4 linked regions of the Homo sapiens genome follow. The protein of the gene in region 2 purifies or fractionates together with the protein of the main gene of each other region. This does not show direct contact. Each region holds a gene or a part of one and is shown on either strand. Other genes may lie near its edges.

Region 1 (4,451 bases), on a different chromosome or scaffold from region 2:
CTCTCGCCCACACGCGCCCCACCCCGCTCCTGGCCTCCCGTTTCCCCAGGCGCAGGAGGCCGAGGCGCTGTACCAGGCCTGTGTCCGCGAGGCCAACGCGCGGCAGCAGGACCTGGAGATCGCCAAGCAGCGAATCGTGTCGCACGTGCGCAAGCTGGTGTTTCAGGGGGATGAAGTGCTGAGGCGGGTGAGGCCCATCCCCAAGGCCATCCTCCCCTCACCCCGTTGGGGCCCCGACTGAGTGCCCCACTCCTCGCCCCTAAGCCACCCTGGAGACACCAGGACTAGGCCATTTCCCTCGACAGCCAGTTCCCGCCCCCAGACCCACTGTCTCGGCTCCGCCCCATGAGGTCCTGTCCCCTGGATGACCAGCCCCTGCTCTGACCATGCCTGGGTCCCCTGGCCGACTGCCCTAGTTCCTAAGCCGCCCAGGTGCGTCCCAAACCCTGACCACGTTCGCGTCTCTCAAGCCCCGCCCCAGCTCTGGCCCTGCCCCCAGGCTCCCAGGCTCCGCCCCTCCCCAACCTGCTGTCTCCACCCGGCAGGTGACGCTGAGTCTCTTCGGGCTGCGGGGGGCGCAGGCAGAGCGTGGCCCCCGCGCCTTCGCCGCCCTGGCCGAGTGCTGTGCGCCCTTTGAGCCGGGCCAGCGCTACCAGGAGTTTGTACGGGCGCTGCGGCCCGAGGCCCCGCCGCCCCCGCCGCCCGCCTTCTCCTTCCAGGAGTTCCTTCCCTCCTTGAACAGGTGGGTCACTGGAGCAGGGAGTCGGGAACGAGCCCCGGAATCGCGATGCCAGGCTGTTGGCACCGCAGGCTGGTTACTCGAGGTTAGAGAACGCAAAGCCTTAGTGGAATTTAGTACTCCAGGCTCTCGGGGGCCATAGGAGGGTGAATGGGTTGTCCCAGTCCTAGGGGCAGGGGCAGGAATGTGGGGCTACTGTATTTCAGGGGCCACAATGCCCTGGGTGTCAGGGTTTGCAGACCCAAGTGCTTGGAGTTGGTACCTAGACATGATGCCTGGGTGCCATCACCCCAGGCCAGTTTCCTGGGATTCAAACCTTCAAACTTCTGTCTTCTCAGCTCCCCTCTGGACATCAGAAAGAAGCTCTCTGGGCCTCTTCCTCCAAGGCTGGATGAGAATTCAGCTGAGCCAGGCCCTTGGGAGGATCCGGGCACAGGCTGGCGCTGGCAAGGTGAGTGCAATGAGGGCCAGGTGGGAGTGGTGCCAGGAGTTCGTTCCACCAACACATAGGTGGGCTGCAGGAGTGGGGTTTGTGAGCAGGGGACCATCCTTATTGACCTGTGCCACCTAGGGACTCCAGGCCCCACTCCGGGCAGCGATGTGGACAGCGTGGGTGGCGGCAGCGAGTCTCGGTCCCTGGACTCACCCACTTCCAGCCCAGGTAGGGATAGGACCTGGTCCTGACCCACACTCCACCTGTGACCATCCTCCAGCCCCTGGCCAAGCTCTGACCCTCAATCTTTAACTATCTTTGACCTCTGACCTACCCCACACCCCTGACCTATTTCCTCAACCTCTTTTTTTACCTTTTTAAAAATTATTTATTTATTTATTTGTTTGTTTATTTGAGACAGTCTCATTCTGTCGCCCAGCCTGGAGTGCAGTGGCGTGATCTCGGCTCACTGCAACCTCCACCTCCCAGATTCAAGCGATTCTCCTGTCTCAGCCTCTGGAGTAGCTGGGATTACAGGTGTGCACTACCACGCCGGCTGATTTTTGTATTTTTTAGTAGAGACGGGGTTTCACCATGTTGGCCAGGCTGATCTCGAACTCCTGACCTCAGGTGATCCACCTGCCTCGGTCTCCCAAAGTGCAGGGATTACAGGTGTGTGCCACCACGCCCGGCCTTTTCTTTTCTTTTCTTTCTTTCTTTTTTTTTTTTTTGAGACAGAGTCTTGCTCTGTTGCCCAGGCTGGAGCGCAGTGGTACGATCTTGGCTCACTGCAACCTCCGCCTCCCAGGTTCAAGCGATTCTCGTGCCTCAGCCTCCCGAGTAGCTGGGACTACAGGTGCCTGCCACCATGCCTGGTTAATGTTTGTATTTTTAGTAGAGACAAGGTTTTGCCATGTTGGCCAGGCTGGTGTCAAACTCCTTGCCTCATGTGATCCTCCTGCCTCAGCTTCCCAAAGTGCTGGGATTACAGGTGTGAGCCACTGCGCCCGGCCTATTTCCTCAACCTCTTGATCCAGCTTATGAACCACCCCCCTCAGGTTGCTGACCCAATTCTCCAACCCTTAACCACTGACCTGTCCAATCCCCCTCCTGACCTCTGACCCCTTGGGAATTAGTGGGTGGTTCTGGAAGCCCTAAAAACCAGGAGTGCCTCCCATAGCCCAGGAATCTCCCATGATTCCTCTGACCCCAGGCGCTGGCACGAGGCAGCTGGTGAAGGCTTCGTCCACAGGCACTGAGTCCTCAGATGACTTTGAGGAGCGAGACCCTGGTGAGGCTGAAGCAGGGTAGGTCAGGATGGGACAGGGCAGGGCACCAGGCACTCCTGACCCTGTCTCCCTGCAGACCTGGGAGACGGGCTGGAGAATGGGCTGGGCAGCCCCTTCGGGAAGTGGACACTGTCCAGCGCGGCTCAGACCCACCAGCTGCGGCGACTGCGGGGCCCAGCCAAGTGCCGCGAGTGCGAAGCCTTCATGGTCAGCGGGACGGAGTGTGAGGAGGTGTGGCCTGGGTTAATGACCAAATGACCTTTGCTGACCCTTGATCATCTCCCTGACCTGAGATTCCTACAGCCTTTCTGCCCCTGGGACCCACCCTAACCTGATGTCTCCCATGAGCCCCCATTCCTTGAGGATCCTTGTAACCTTCTCTTCCCCTACTGGTCCCTAATGACCTCCCTGTCCCTGTGACCTTCCCCACAGTGCTTTCTGACCTGCCACAAGCGCTGCCTGGAGACTCTCCTGATCCTCTGTGGACACAGGCGGCTCCCAGCCCGGACACCCCTTTTTGGGGTTGACTTCCTGCAGCTACCCAGGGACTTCCCGGAGGAGGTACCCTTTGTGGTCACGAAGTGCACGGCTGAGATAGAACACCGTGCCCTGGATGTGCAGGTGCTGCCCTGACCCTTCATCATCCCCAGAAGTGACCTGACCGAATCGATGGCCTATCACGAACCAGGTGTCTGTTTTTCACCCTCACCCTGCAGGGCATTTACCGGGTCAGCGGGTCCCGGGTCCGTGTGGAGCGGCTGTGCCAGGCTTTCGAGAATGGCCGAGCGTTGGTGGAGCTGTCGGGGAACTCGCCTCATGACGTCTCGAGTGTCCTCAAGCGATTTCTTCAGGAGGTTGGTGCTCAGGACACTGAGGGGGACGCGGGCAGGAGCCCTCCACAGCCCACCCACACTCGTGTTGCGCCCTCCGTTCCACCCCCAGCTCACCGAGCCCGTGATCCCCTTCCACCTCTACGACGCCTTCATCTCTCTGGCTAAGACCTTGCATGCAGACCCTGGGGACGACCCTGGGACCCCCAGCCCCAGCCCTGAGGTTATCCGCTCGCTGAAGACCCTCTTGGTACAGCTGCCTGACTCTAACTACAACACCCTGCGGCACCTGGTGGCCCATCTGTTCAGGTGTGCATGGGTCCCTGAGCCTTGAAACGCGACCCTTTTCCCTGGACATGCGACTACTAACTTCCCTGGCTGACCCCTGACACTGACCTCTGACCTTTGACCTGTGTTTTCTGAACTCTGAACCTTAATCCATGATTCATAACTTTGGGTACTGACCCCTGACCTCCAGTTCTGGATATGTGGCTGCTGGTCTCAGACGACTTACACCTGTGACATGGGCAAGTCACCTCTAGGCTGGCCTGCGTGTCCCACCCTTACCCTCAGACCAATGAGCTTGCATCCTGTACCCTGACCTTTCTCTTCACACCATCCCCAGGGTGGCTGCACGATTTATGGAAAACAAGATGTCTGCCAACAACCTGGGCATTGTGTTTGGGCCGACACTGCTGCGGCCGCCGGACGGCCCGCGGGCAGCCAGCGCCATCCCTGTCACCTGCCTGCTGGACTCTGGGCATCAGGCCCAGCTTGTGGAGTTCCTCATCGTGCACTACGAGCAGATCTTTGGGATGGATGAGCTCCCCCAGGCCACTGAGCCCCCGCCCCAAGACTCCAGCCCAGCCCCTGGGCCCCTCACAACCAGCTCCCAACCGCCACCCCCGCACCTTGACCCAGACTCCCAGCCCCCAGTCCTAGCCTCAGACCCCGGCCCAGACCCCCAGCACCACAGTACCCTGGAGCAGCATCCCACGGCCACACCTACCGAGGTAAGAACCCACTGGGCCCACAGCTATGGAGAGGGCCTTATCTCTGTTCAATTCTCTTACCTTCTCTTTCACCTTCCTTCCTTTTTAAAATTTCCTTCATTCTCTTCCTCCCTTCCTCATTTAACTTATGTTCATTCTGGAAGGAAT
Region 2 (4,223 bases):
ATAATATACATGTTCAACATTTTTTTTTTTTGAGATGGAGTCTCACTCTTGTTGCCCAGGCTGGAGTGCAATGGTGCAATCTCAGCTCACTGCAACCTCCACCTCCTGGGTTCCAGCAATTCTGCCTCAGCCTCCCGAGTAGCTGGAATTACAGGTGACCTACAGGTGACCGCCACGATGCCCAGCTAATTTTTGTATTTTTAGTAGAGACAGGTTTCACCATGTTGGCCAGGCTAGTCTCGAGCTCCTGACCACAAGTGATTTGCCCACCTCGGCCTCCCAAAGTGCTGGGATTACAGGTGTGAGCCACCGCGCCCAGCCAACACTTTTAAACCTTCCTATTTTTTGCTTTTCATGTTTGTTAATTCTTTCCCACAATGTGGCTGTCTTGTGACAGCACCCAAATCCCCATGAATATGTCAAAATACTGGAAGATGACTTGTGACCAGTATTGGTGACCATATATGTGACCAATATCTGAACAGATTATTGCTGCCATGCCTCCTTTACTCATTAATTCTGACATTTCTAGCTAAAACTTCTGTTACATTTTCTTTCTTTCATAAGACCAGGCTGTTCATTACTCATAAAAGCTTACCTTATCTATTTTTACCTTCTCTTGCTTCTTAATATATCTTTTGCATTCTTATAAAAACATAAGCTCTGCTGGTATAGTTTCTCCTTCCATGGAGAATTTGCCTGTATTCATTGTTTTAGGATGTTAGTTCTTTTCATGACTAACTCAAATAAATTTGTGAGAAGGTTCATACATCTACCAGTTTTCCCGTTTCCTGAAGATGGGCAGTCCTGCTGGTGTGTCTAGACTTTTTTTTTTTTTTTTCTTTTTTTTTATGACAAGGTCTCCTATTGCCCAGGCTGGAGTTCAGTGGTATGATCACGGTTCACTGCAGCCTCGACCTCCCAGGCTCAAGTGATCCTCCCACCTCAGCCACCCGAGTAGCTGGGACTGTAGGAGCATGCCACCATGGCTGGCTAATTTTTTTTTTTTTTTAAGATGCAGTCTTGCTGTGTTGTCCAGGTTGGTCTCAAACTCCTGGGCTCAAGTGATCCTCCCGCCTCAGCCTCCCAAAGTGCTGGGATTACAGGTGTGAGCCACTGTGCCCGGCCTGTCTAGGCTTTTAAAATACCATAGGATGCCTCAAAATCAAGGTTTCTCAACTTCAAGCACAATTGACATTTTGGGGCTGGATAATTCTTTTTTGTGGAATTGCAGGACATTTAGCAGGATCCCTGGACTCTATCAACTAGAGCCAGTAGCACCCTGCCCCCAGTTATGACAACCCAAAATGTCCCCAGACACTGCCAACTGTCCCAGGGGAGCGGGGAGAAGAAGGGAGCAAGATTGCCCCCAGTTGAGAATCACTGCTGTAAAAGATGAGAAATAACTGTTGTATAGCCTTAGCTCTTTACTGTCGATACCAGAAAGCAAGCTCTGGGCTCTACACCAAATAGCTCTATCAGGAATGATTCAATGTAGGTAAACAGAGGCGAGGCAGCGGGGAGCACAGCTGGTTAGTACGTTAGTGTGAGAAAGCAAATTGAAAGGAGAGACATCAAAGGAGCGAGCAGGGTCATCTGGGGCTCTGAATCCATAAACCAGATTTGTCCATATTCTCGAAAGAGCTCAGAGATGAAGCCTCACCTGCCTAGCTCTATCAACATGTTGTCATCCTTTGGGAAATCAGATTTCATGGAAACAGCACATTTTACCACAGTTGTTTAACACAGCTGATTTGACACAGCTACTTTTGATGCTTGACGGTGAGGATGGGGGTACATTTTAAGGCTGCCAAAATGGCTCAGTGTTTAATATCACATAATATGCATGTCAGATAACCATTCCTGACTCCTCAGTCCTTGCCCCAGCATCTGGGATAGATGAGGAATGGAATTGGCAATTTCAAAAAAGAAAGCTAGGGCTGGGCGCAGTGGCTCACACCTGTAATCCCAGCACTTTGGGAGGCTAAGTTAGGAGGATCACCTGAGGTCAGGAGTTCAAGACCAGCCTGGCCAACATGGAAAAACTCCATCTCTAATAAAAAATGTGAAAATCAACCAGACGTGGTGGCACACACCTGTAGTCCCAGCTACTCAGGAAGCTGAGGCAGGAGAATCGCTTGAACCCAGGAGACAGAAGTTGCAGTGAGCCTAGATCTCACCACTGCACTCCAGCATGGGCGACAGAACGAGACTCCGTCTCAACAACAACAAAAAAAGCTAGAAGTTTAATGATTTATTATGCCAGACCAAATTGTTCTTGCACCAAAATGTCCTCAAGCCGAAATGCCTAAATCCAAACAGCTGCCTCAGACAGTCACATGCCCTATTTGATCTGTGTCACAGATGGAGCTACGTTAACCATATTCATCACCTAGTTTGCATGAATATTACACAGTTCAGTTCTGAGCTGCCTTAGAGGGTGGGGTACCAGCAGCCATCTCATTTGGTACCCAGGACCACAAGGATCACAGTTTGGAAGCAACATCACACGTCAACTCCATTACTTCTGAGCTGTGTGACCTTGGGGAGAGCACTTAATTTCTGAAACCTTCGTTTCCTCATCTGCAAAATGGGGATAACAGTAGTACCCACCCTGCAGGGCTCTAAATGAGATAATAAAGTGTCCCAGTACTGTTATGATCATTGTTATCATAATCATGTCATGAACTATCAAATGGGCTTATTATTCAGCTTTGTGTATAGTCTCCCAATGGTCTAATGATCAGAAGGATGGTGCCAAGTAACTAGAGGAGGCCAGCACCTGTGCTCCCCTATAACTCAGGGCCTGCTTGGGGTGGGGAAGGCCCACGTCCAAACCAACAGTTACCCTTGAGTGCCCAGCTGCTCCCTGGCCTGGACTCTGAAGTTGGAATTGGTAGTTTCCTCTTGGGAATTTGTCCTGTCCTGATTTAGTCAGAGGAGCTGGTTTAATCTACAAGAGAGATGATTTCTTCTTGCCATGACTGTTGTAGCTGGTTGCTCTGGTTTCTCTGGTACAAAGTTTCATTTTATAGGAACCTAGGGAACCAAGAACTTCCTAAGGGTACATATGGGGATCTCTGTTAACATTAACCTTTTGGGAGACCAAAGTATTACCTTAGCTTATATTATACATATGCTGCTACTTGAAGTCAAAACATATCCAACCAGAGTTAGGAAGTGGGCCTTTTATTAATATATTACCTTGCTTCAGATTTTGACTGTTTCATTAAAAACCAAACAAAAAAAAAACTGCCATAGAGAACTGGTTTCTGAAGCAATCTCCACTTTGGTATGCTTACTTTGAGTGGCCTTAGGGAAGTAATGAAAAATAAATAAAATATGAACATATATCACAAATGTTTTTAAAAACATATTTTACAAATACATCTTTAAGAATAAAGCAATGTCTAAGTTTGTTTGCTTTTTAATGCTTTCTGTGGATACTTCATGCCACCCGCTTTGTGTTTCCTTATACAGGAAATGCTTCTACAGAGAGGAATGGGGTCTCTTTTAGTGTTCAGAATGGAGATGTGTGCCTTCACGATTTCACTGGAAAACAGCACATGTTTAACGAGAAGGAAGATTCCTGCAATGGGAAAGGCCGTATGGCTCTCAGAAGGACTTCAAAGCGGGGAAGCTTACACTTTATTGAGCAAATGTGATTCCTTTCTTCTAAAATCAAAGCATGATGCTTGACAGTGTGAAATGTCCAATTTTACCTTTTACACAATGTGAGATGTATGAAAATCAACTCATTTTATTCTCGGCAACATCTGGAGAAGCATAAGCTAATTAAGGGCGATGATTATTATTACAAGAAGAAACCAAGACATTACACCATGGTTTTTAGACATTTCTGATTTGGTTTCTTATCTTTCATTTTATAAGAAGGTTGGTTTTAAACAATACACTAAGAATGACTCCTATAAAGAAAACAAAAAAAGGTAGTGAACTTTCAGCTACCTTTTAAAGAGGCTAAGTTATCTTTGATAACATCATATAAAGCAACTGTTGACTTCAGCCTGTTGGTGAGTTTAGTTGTGCATGCCTTTGTTGTATATAAGCTAAATTCTAGTGACCCATGTGTCAAAAATCTTACTTCTACATTTTTTTGTATTTATTTTCTACTGTGTAAATGTATTCCTTTGTAGAATCATGGTTGTTTTGTCTCACGTGATAATTCAGAAAATCCTTGCTCGTTCCGCAAATCCTAAAGCTCC
Region 3 (4,451 bases), on a different chromosome or scaffold from region 2:
AATGGTAACAGGTAAAATATTGGGCCAAGCCTGATGGCTATTATAAAACAGAATTCTAGAAAGTTGCTATGGGTAGGTCATAAATTTAGCTTTAAGTTTTCTAATGGTCAATGTGAAATAAAAAATTTGATCAGTTAGATAAAATCATCATGTCTGTAAGAAAATAAAAATTAATTCCTCAAAGGAAGCATAATTATCATTTATTGTTACTGAATTATTAACAAGATTACAATGAAATTTCTTCAAAGATTTCATAAAGAAAATGCAAAGGCAATTAACAGTGTCATCAACAACATCCTTTCAAGAGAAATATGTTTCAGAGGGCTGTTTCTTATTGTTCCTTCCTTAGTACAGATGGCAGGCATCACGAAACAAAGAGCCATTCAGTAAAAGCTACCCTACAGGGAGTGAATACCATTTAGACTAGATACATTGACAGCTTTTTGCTCCTCTAGGTTAACAACTACTTTAGAACATTTAGAGAAAGAAACAAGCTGGACATCCTCCAGGCAATACTACATAGTATTTCAGCTAAGCTTCTGAAAGATTTTGGGAAGCAGTGGGTTTGAAATAACAAGTGCAACTTTAATTGGCAGTATGGACTGCCTATTAAAAGTGAACCACATGTTTTAACTAGTCTTTTGAGCTGAGAGTAAAGTGATATTCTCTTGAAAAAACTAAGCATCCCAACAAGATTACATATTTGAATAGGAAGTCATATGATCTCTGCTCAAAGGTGAGTCAAAGGAATATTCTGGCCAAGATTCTCTTTTCAAAACGATTCTGAGTCCAGTCAATGGACAGTTATACATCATCAAGGTTCATATTTGTGTTCCATAATTGGGTGAAACATTAGCATGAAAAAACAGGTATAACTGAAGATATGTCTCAGACCCAATCCTCTATATAGCACACAAAGAAAAACCAGATTTTAGCAATGCTACTTCTTATCCTCTTTAACTAATTAAGAAATTTAGGAAACATACACCATAGTATGACAGATGTTTCTTACTATACGGGTTATTAACTATAAGTTAAAAGTTGGGGGACATCATCTACCAAAAACAGTAAATATAGCTTTAGAATATCTGAATCCTCTGTATCAATATTTAGATGAGTAGCTGGCAAACTATGGCCTCACAGCCACCTGCTTTTACAAATTAAGTTTATTGGAGCATGGCCATGCTCGTTTGTTTATATATTGCCTATGACTGTTTTCTCTCTACAACAGCAGAGCTGAGTACTTGTGATAGAAACCTTCTGGTCCACAGAAACCTAAAATATTTATTATCTGGCCCTTTACAGAAGAAAGCCTGCCAACCCCTGCTTAAATAGCAGTGAAAGATGCAGGTTGTGATAATAAAATTTAATAACCATTATGTAAAATAATACCTGTCTATTCTCTATAGTCACAGGATCTATATCTAGCTCATCCAAGAAAAGGTTTGGATTATTTTTTATTTATTTATTTTTTTGAGATGGAGTCTTGCTCTGTCGCCCAGGCTGGAGTGCAGTGGCACAATCTCGGCTCACTGCAAGCTCTGCCTCCTGGGTTCAGGCCATTCTCCTGCCTCAGCCCCCCAAGTAGCTGGGACTACAGGCGCCCACCACCACGCCCAGCTAATTTTTTGTATTTTTAGTAGAGACGGGGTTTCACCATGTTAGCCAGGATGGTCTTGATCTCCTGACCTCGTGATCCGCCTGCCTTGGCCTCCCAAAGTGCTGGGATTACAGGCGTGAGCCACCGTGCCCGGCCAAGGTTTGGATTATTAAAGTTTAAAAGCAGGAGAATCAGAAAACACTTCTATTTTACCATAATACATGTTATTCATTGTTCTATCAAGAGACCATTATTATCAACTCTGATTCTCTCTCTCTCACTCTTTTTTTTAAGAGATGGGGTCTCATTGTCTTGTCCAGTGATCACAGCTCACTGCATATCCTCAAACTCCTGGGCTCAAGGGATCCTCCTGCTTCAGCCTCCAGGGTAGCTGGCACTACAGACGTGTACTACCACACTCTGCTAATTTTTTTTATTTTTTTGTAGAGACAGGGTCTCACTTTGTTGCCCAGGCTCGTCTTGAACCCCTGCACTTAAGTGATCCTCCTGCCTCAGCCTCCCAAAGTGCTAGGATTATAGGCGTGAGCCACTATGTCTGGCCCCTCTCTCTTCTTTTTTTTTTTTTAACCTTTCAATGTTTTGTGATTAACCATCTGTATAGTAAGTTTTTCTTTTTAATTTAAATTTCGTTTTCAACTCTGATTATCAAAGGATTTGAGAGTATAGTCTCTCTACAAGTCTCAAGTGCCAGGGGTCTATAATGAACTTACCTTGGCACTGAATCCTAACTTTAGAGTGAAAGACTGCTTTACTCCTAAAAGGTTTTTCCAGGTGGTGATAAAAAAGCACAACAAAGTCTGCATAGCATAGTTGATGAACCCTACATATAAATGCTGGCCTAAAAACATACTCAAGCTTGCAGATTAACAAGCAAGAAATATTTTGAATAGACTGTCTAATAAACTAACAAGTCTATTATTTGGAGGGGAGTAAAGAGTTATTTTTAAAAAGTGTTTTAAGAAACACTTTAAATTCAACCAAACTTGACCATGACTGTAAAATCAATAAAAATAACTAAGTTAAGTAAGAACTGGAGTTTCAGTCTTCAGAGAGATCATTAAAGTAGCTCTGAGGAATTCTAATCTTTTCAGGTAGAGATTTTCAATCAGCAGAACAATGTGAAGGGCTGTTACTGGGATTCAGTCAGCGAGCAGTCCTGGAAAAATAAAGCTTCTAGGAGTGAAGCCTAGACTGCAGCTTCACAGCCTCACTCCAATGAGTTCTTCAGAGTTAACGGTCAGATCTTTTGTTTCCTGGTATCTCATAATCTTTATCAAACCAGCTATTAGGTGGCTGTGACCCATATCTGTTGTGATCATTGCAGTTACTGAAACTGAACTATTAACACAGTGTTTTTTTTTTCAGTTATGAGATCCAATAGCTTTTCCACTGTAAAGAATGTAGCACAGAACTCTTCAAGAGGAGTTTTCAGTACTCTTACTCACCTGCTATTCAATACTCCTAAGATTTCAAAGATGATGAGCTCAAACATGGTGCAAGAAAATGCAAACGTCACGGAGAAGATCACCTGTACAACATACTGACGTATCTGTTAAAAGCCAAACAGAGACTAGAAGTTATTTCCTTGTTTAAAAACTGAACTGATAACCTCCTTCTGGTTACAAGTCAGAAAACTTATTTTGAGGAAATTCTCAAGTCATTGGAAGTAGGGCCACAACAGCAACTTGCCTGGAGCTAAAGAAAAAGATCAATATAGGTGGCACTTCTGAATCTTGAGTCACTATTACCAGCATCCTCCTGTGGATGAAGAATTTTGAGGACAAGAAGATGAAGTGACAGGGTCATAGGTAGCACTTAGAATTCCTGATGCATACTGACAAAAAACTGACAGATTCGTACATAATGGTTAATGTTTAAAGGGGTTCTTCAACACTCTGCAGATCCTGGATCAGTTCTGGAACCTTCCTCGGGAGGTCTTAAAGTATTGGGCAGAAGAAAATCTCCAGAATCCCAGGCTCTTTCAGACAATAAACTCCCTGGGAAAGTTTAATGGAGAATATCCTAGAAATGACCCAAATGTAGACTATAACCACTGATCTTATTACTAATTAGGAGAACTAACTAGGAAATGTCGAGTCTAGGGTGGTGATCTTCTGAATCCAAAGCTTAAGATAAAAACAACACCAGCCTTGTGTTGCGGGAAGTCAGGGACCCCGAATGGAGGGACTGGCTGAAGCCGCAGCAGAAGAACATAAATTGTTTCATGGACATTTATTAGTTCCCAAAATTAATACTTTTATAATTTCTTACACCTGTCTTTACTGCAATCTCTGAACATAAATTGTGAAGATTTCATGGACATTTATTAGTTCCCCAAATTAATACTTTTTAAATTTCTTATGACTGTCTTACTTTAATCTCTTAATCCCGTCATCTTTGTAAACTGAGGATGTATGTCACCTCAGTACCCTGTGATGATTGCGTTAACTGTACAAATTGTTTGAAAAACATGTGTGTTTGAACAATATGAAATTAGTGCACCCTGAAAAAGAACAGAATAACAGCAATTTTCAGGGAACACGGAAAGATAACCATAAGGTCTGACTGCTTGCGGGGTTGGGCAGAATAGAGTCATACTCTTCTTCTTGCAGAAAGCGAGTAGGAGAAATACTGCTGAATTCTTTTTCCAGCAAGGAATAACCCTGGGGAAGGAATGCATTCTGGGAGAGAGGTCTATGAATGGCCGCTCTGGGAGTGTCTGTCTTATGCGGTTGAGATAGGACTAAAATACACCCTGGTCTCCTACAGTGCCCTCAGACTTACTAGGATTGGGAAATTCCAGCCTGGTAAATTCTAGTCAGACTGGTTG
Region 4 (4,451 bases), on a different chromosome or scaffold from region 2:
TTTGTAGCACAACTAGAACTTACGTGACTGACTTGTGAATATTGTTGCCAAGGATCTCTATTAAATAATTTCAATCATTCAATGATTTTTAATTATAAAATATGTGAAGGCTCAGCTTCTGGTACAGATGAGTAGTAGCTCCGAGAGAAATTCTCCTGCTGGTGACAAATAAAACTATCTTGTGACCAAGAGTAAGCAGACACTGGAAGGATGTCAGAATTTTGTAGAAGGGAATGGCACTACACGAGTTTCCCATTTTAAAAAAGGCTTTTGGGGCCGGGCGCGGTGGCTCACGCCTGTAATCCCAGCACTTTGGGAGGCCAAGGCGGGCAGATCCTGAGGTCAGGAGATCGAGACCATCCTGGCTAACACAGTGAAACCCTGTCTCTACTAAAAATACGAAAAAATTAGCCGGGTGTGGTGGCGGGTGCCTGTAGTCCCAGCTACTCAGGAGACTGAGGCAGGAGAATGGCGCAAACCCGGGAGGCGGAGCTTGCAGTGAGCTGAGATCGCGCCACTGCACTCCGGCCTGGGCGACAGAGCAAGATTCCGTCTCAAAAAAAAAAAAAAAAAAAAAAAAAAAAAGGCTTTTGGCCTGAGAGCAGGCCGTATTCTACACCTCGTGGAAATGCTAAAACTCAGAGTAACCCTGTGGTCTTAGTGGCCTGAAGAACCAGAGGGCAGAGGCAACCACAGCCATTGGAAAGTGAAGGGAGAAATCCCATAAAGGAGAGAGCCAGAGAGAGAGAATGCTAAATTCTGTGTACAAACTCTTCCCAAATATCTGGCTGATAGCTGAACCACACAAGTGCAGAGAATACTCAAGCATCCCAGGCAAGAACTGAATTAAGATTTGGGCTGCCATACCTCAAAAAGGGATGAGTACAGCTAAGTTAAATATGTAGTTATTAAAAATTCTTCAGAGGAGTATACCAGAATCTACAGTAAAGATGCTCATAATGAATAGAAAGATAAGAACTCTCAGGAGAGACACTATAAAAAGGAATAAAAATAAATTCTAAAACTGAAAAATATATCTGAAGTAAAAATGCACTGGATGAGATTAACAGCAGAATGGAGATGACAGAAATAAAAAAGTCAGTGAATTTAAATATATAGACTAATACAAATTATCCAACCTGAAGAATAGAGAGAAAAATGATTGAAAAAAGTGAGCAGAGCCTCACAAACCTGTGGGACAATATCAAAAAGTCAAACATAAAAGTAATCAGAGCCTCTGAAGAAGTGGGGAGAGAGAATGGGGCTGAAAAAATATTTGAAGAAATAATGGCCAAGAGTTCTCCAAATCTTCTCAAAGACTTAAATTTATATATCCAAGAAGCTCTATGAAACCTAAGCAGAACAAATACAAAGGAGATCTCACCTTAGCACATCATTTCGAAACTGCTAGGAACCAAAGATAGAGTTAAAATCTTGAAAACAGTGAGAGAAAAGGATGATATATTATACATAGGGGAATAACGATTTGAAATAATGGATACTTCTCATCAGAGTCCAGGGTGCTCACCATTACACCATGGAACCTCACAATGAATATTTCTCATCAGAAACAACAGACTCCATAAGACAGCAGAACTTTATCTTTGAAATGCTAAACAAAAACATTTTTCAGCCTAGAGTTCTATATTCAATGAGCATAGACTTTAAGAATTAAGATGAATTAAATATATTTTCAGATAAAAGAAAACTAAGATAACTTGTTGCCAGCAGCCAGTAGATTTGCACCACAAGAAATTGTAAACAAAGTTCTTCCAGTGAAAGAGAAATGATGCCAGATGGAAACTCAAATCATCAGGAAGGAAAGAAAAGCATCATAAGTGGTAAATACATGTATAAATCACACAATATGAGGAAGATTCCAAATTTCCAAAGGATTGCAAAGAAGAATTGGCAGAGTGATAAGCACACTGGTGACCATCAAGATATTACAGCATAACTTAGCATTACAAGAAAATACACAAATATTCCAACATAATATAGGACTTCTTTCACCCAAGCCCACCACTTCCACAATTAAAATTAATGCAATTTGATTCATACTTACAATCATTGGTGCTTCAGGATTTTGAGCTATAATTGTAGTGATCACTAATATGTCATTTCTAAGCTGACGGTCATAATGACTGAAACCTCTCATAAACAGATTTTTAAATACTTCCTTCAAAGCCCTAGAAAGTAAAATCATATTTTAAAAACTATATTGTTATACACTAAATGTTTGCGTCCCTCCAAAATTCATATATTTAAATCCTAACCCCCAATGTGATGGTTTTAGGAGTGAGGCCTTAGGGAGGTAATGAGCCCTCATGAATGGAATTAGTGCCCTTATAAAAGGGACTCCAGAGAGCTGTCTTGCTCTCTTTCCTCCATGTAAGAATACAAGAGATCAGCAGTATGCAACCCAGAAGAGCACCCTCATCAGAACCCAACCACACTGGCACCCTGATATCAGAATTCTAGCCTCCCAAACTGAAAAATAACTTTCTGTTGTTTATAAACCACCCAGTTTACGGTACTTTATTATAGCAGCTCAAACTAAAACACACACTTTTATGAAAATACTTCCTGAATGTCTATCAACAAAATCTCCCTTTTTATATTATACTATTCATTTGAACATATTTCTAATATTTTTTACACTTCCAAATCTGCCTCTAATCCTCTATGTACCAGATAAGAATCCACTAAACCAGTCTATTACACATGGTGGTCAAAGTGACAGCTCTATAACACATTCAATCATGTCATTTTCCTTTGTAAAACCATTTAAAGACTATTCTTTGTTCTTAGGATTAAGTCCTACCTCCTTAACAAGGCTTATTAGACCTTTCATGTTATGGTCCCTGATAACATTGTTAGCCTCATCTCTCACCATTGTAGCCTGTTCCTTCTGCTCTCATCATACTGAATTTTAGTTTTCTGATTTTGCTAATTATATTTTCACTTGTTTTCCCTGTCTAGGATGCTCTCCGCATGCAAAACTTTTCTGTTACCAAGTCCTGTTTGTCATTCAGTTACTAGACTTGAGTTCATTAGGAAGCAGTTATTAATTCTCCAACTCTGAGTTAGGTTCCCTTGTATTAATAGTAGATATTTGTTGCTTTGCCTCCTGGGACCTACTTGCCCTTTTTATAAGAACAGCATTCTTATTTTTATTTAGGCATTTACTCCTTCCTGACTTTTGCTCCTGTGAGGCTGCCTTCAGCTGCCTTTTCGCCAGTCAGAGCATTTTTTCTTTTGGCACTAATAAATCACTGTGGAACAGGCATTTGACCAATATTAGACCATTCAGGGCCAAACTGGACTCAATTCAAAGACTTTTCTCTGAGCCTTCAGGATAGCAAGGTTTCTCTTCTGCTTGATTTGAGGTTGAAATGATGTGATCGTAGACTTCTTAGGTCTTACTACATAGGCTTGGGTGTGAAGCCAGCACCATGGAAGACAATGTAGAGAGAGGAGGGACGAAGTCCTAGTATCTGCTGATCCCTGAATAAAGCTGCACATGAAACCAGTTTTATCCTTGACTTTGTAGTTAAATAAGCCATAAATTTTCTATATTGCTTTGGTCATTTGGGTTTTTAGTCACTTGCAAACAAAAATGTGCTGACTGATCTTCTTCTGAAGAACATGTAGCATCTTACAATAATCTGTTTCATAACATTTAGTATGTTCTCTTTTAGTTGTCTATTTACTTGTCCATCCCTCCTAGCACAATGTAAATTCCACGAAAGCAGAGACAATATCTATATTGTTTTCAGTGGTATTTCTATGGCTTAATACTGAAGCTGGCATAGAGCAGACAATTATTTGTTGAATAAGTGAAGAAGCAACTTGAAGGCTTACGCACATTTTGTTGCTAATGCTTACTGCAATATCTGGGAGATAGTAAGCACTCAATAATAGATTCACTGGATAAATAAATGAAATAGTTCTTCTAAAGTCTAATTTTACTTTATCTATATTCCAAGTTATATTTTAGTGTTAAGAAGCTACTTCAAGAGCCTTCCACATAGAAAAGTGTGGCTTGTTATTGTGCAGATTCATTTATACCATGGAACAAAAAAGATGTCCTGAAACATAGCCATTACATGAATCTAAAACATAATTGAACACAGATTCAAACAAAGATGTTAGTTATGTCACTGGCTGTCATTTTAAGATTAAAAGAACATTCCTATCTAACCACATACGCTTACAGCAAACATTCCAAGTTACTAAGCTGTTGTATGACTTCTTCTTTTGAAGATTTTTCCAGCAAGTTCCAAAGTATTTCTGATGAACGAAATAAAAGCTGTCCAGAGGGATCTGGGTCATTGAGGTGAGTACAGATTCCACTGGCTGCTTGTGCTTTCATCATTATAGTACAATTAACTTCTGAAAATAAATTTTAAAAATTATTTGTGCTTTACAATATTGACATTTTTAGACAT

Evidence for each region. The genes of interacting proteins can lie anywhere in the genome.
Region 1: the proteins of ADGRG2 (region 2) and GMIP purify together in Homo sapiens (affinity purification with mass spectrometry; one large-scale study listed by BioGRID and IntAct). This does not show direct contact.
Region 3: the proteins of ADGRG2 (region 2) and GPR89A purify together in Homo sapiens (affinity purification with mass spectrometry, with the first as the bait; one large-scale study listed by BioGRID). This does not show direct contact.
Region 4: the proteins of ADGRG2 (region 2) and CFAP69 purify together in Homo sapiens (affinity purification with mass spectrometry; one large-scale study listed by BioGRID and IntAct). This does not show direct contact.

Annotation. Positions count from the first base shown.
Region 1 is NC_000019.10:19,633,656-19,638,106, reverse strand, and holds part of GMIP (GEM-interacting protein), read left to right. Parts: intron 1-49; coding exon 50-187; intron 188-545; coding exon 546-742; intron 743-1,077; coding exon 1,078-1,190; intron 1,191-1,310; coding exon 1,311-1,400; intron 1,401-2,385; coding exon 2,386-2,463; intron 2,464-2,537; coding exon 2,538-2,692; intron 2,693-2,893; coding exon 2,894-3,082; intron 3,083-3,177; coding exon 3,178-3,315; intron 3,316-3,403; coding exon 3,404-3,600; intron 3,601-3,916; coding exon 3,917-4,304; intron 4,305-4,451. UniProt on the Homo sapiens protein: Stimulates, in vitro and in vivo, the GTPase activity of RhoA.
Region 2 is NC_000023.11:18,990,306-18,994,528, reverse strand, and holds part of ADGRG2 (adhesion G-protein coupled receptor G2 isoform 1 precursor), read left to right. Parts: intron 1-3,480; coding exon 3,481-3,665; 3' UTR 3,666-4,223. UniProt on the Homo sapiens protein: Adhesion G-protein coupled receptor (aGPCR) for steroid hormones, such as dehydroepiandrosterone (DHEA; also named 3beta-hydroxyandrost-5-en-17-one) and androstenedione.
Region 3 is NC_000001.11:145,617,039-145,621,489, reverse strand, and holds part of GPR89A (Golgi pH regulator A), read right to left. Parts: intron 3,171-4,451; coding exon 3,067-3,170; intron 1-3,066. UniProt on the Homo sapiens protein: Voltage-gated channel that enables the transfer of anions such as iodide, chloride, bromide and fluoride which may function in counter-ion conductance and participates in Golgi acidification.
Region 4 is NC_000007.14:90,271,725-90,276,175, reverse strand, and holds part of CFAP69 (cilia- and flagella-associated protein 69), read right to left. Parts: intron 4,396-4,451; coding exon 4,218-4,395; intron 2,190-4,217; coding exon 2,066-2,189; intron 1-2,065. UniProt on the Homo sapiens protein: Cilium- and flagellum-associated protein. In the olfactory epithelium, regulates the speed of activation and termination of the odor response and thus contributes to the robustness of olfactory transduction pathways.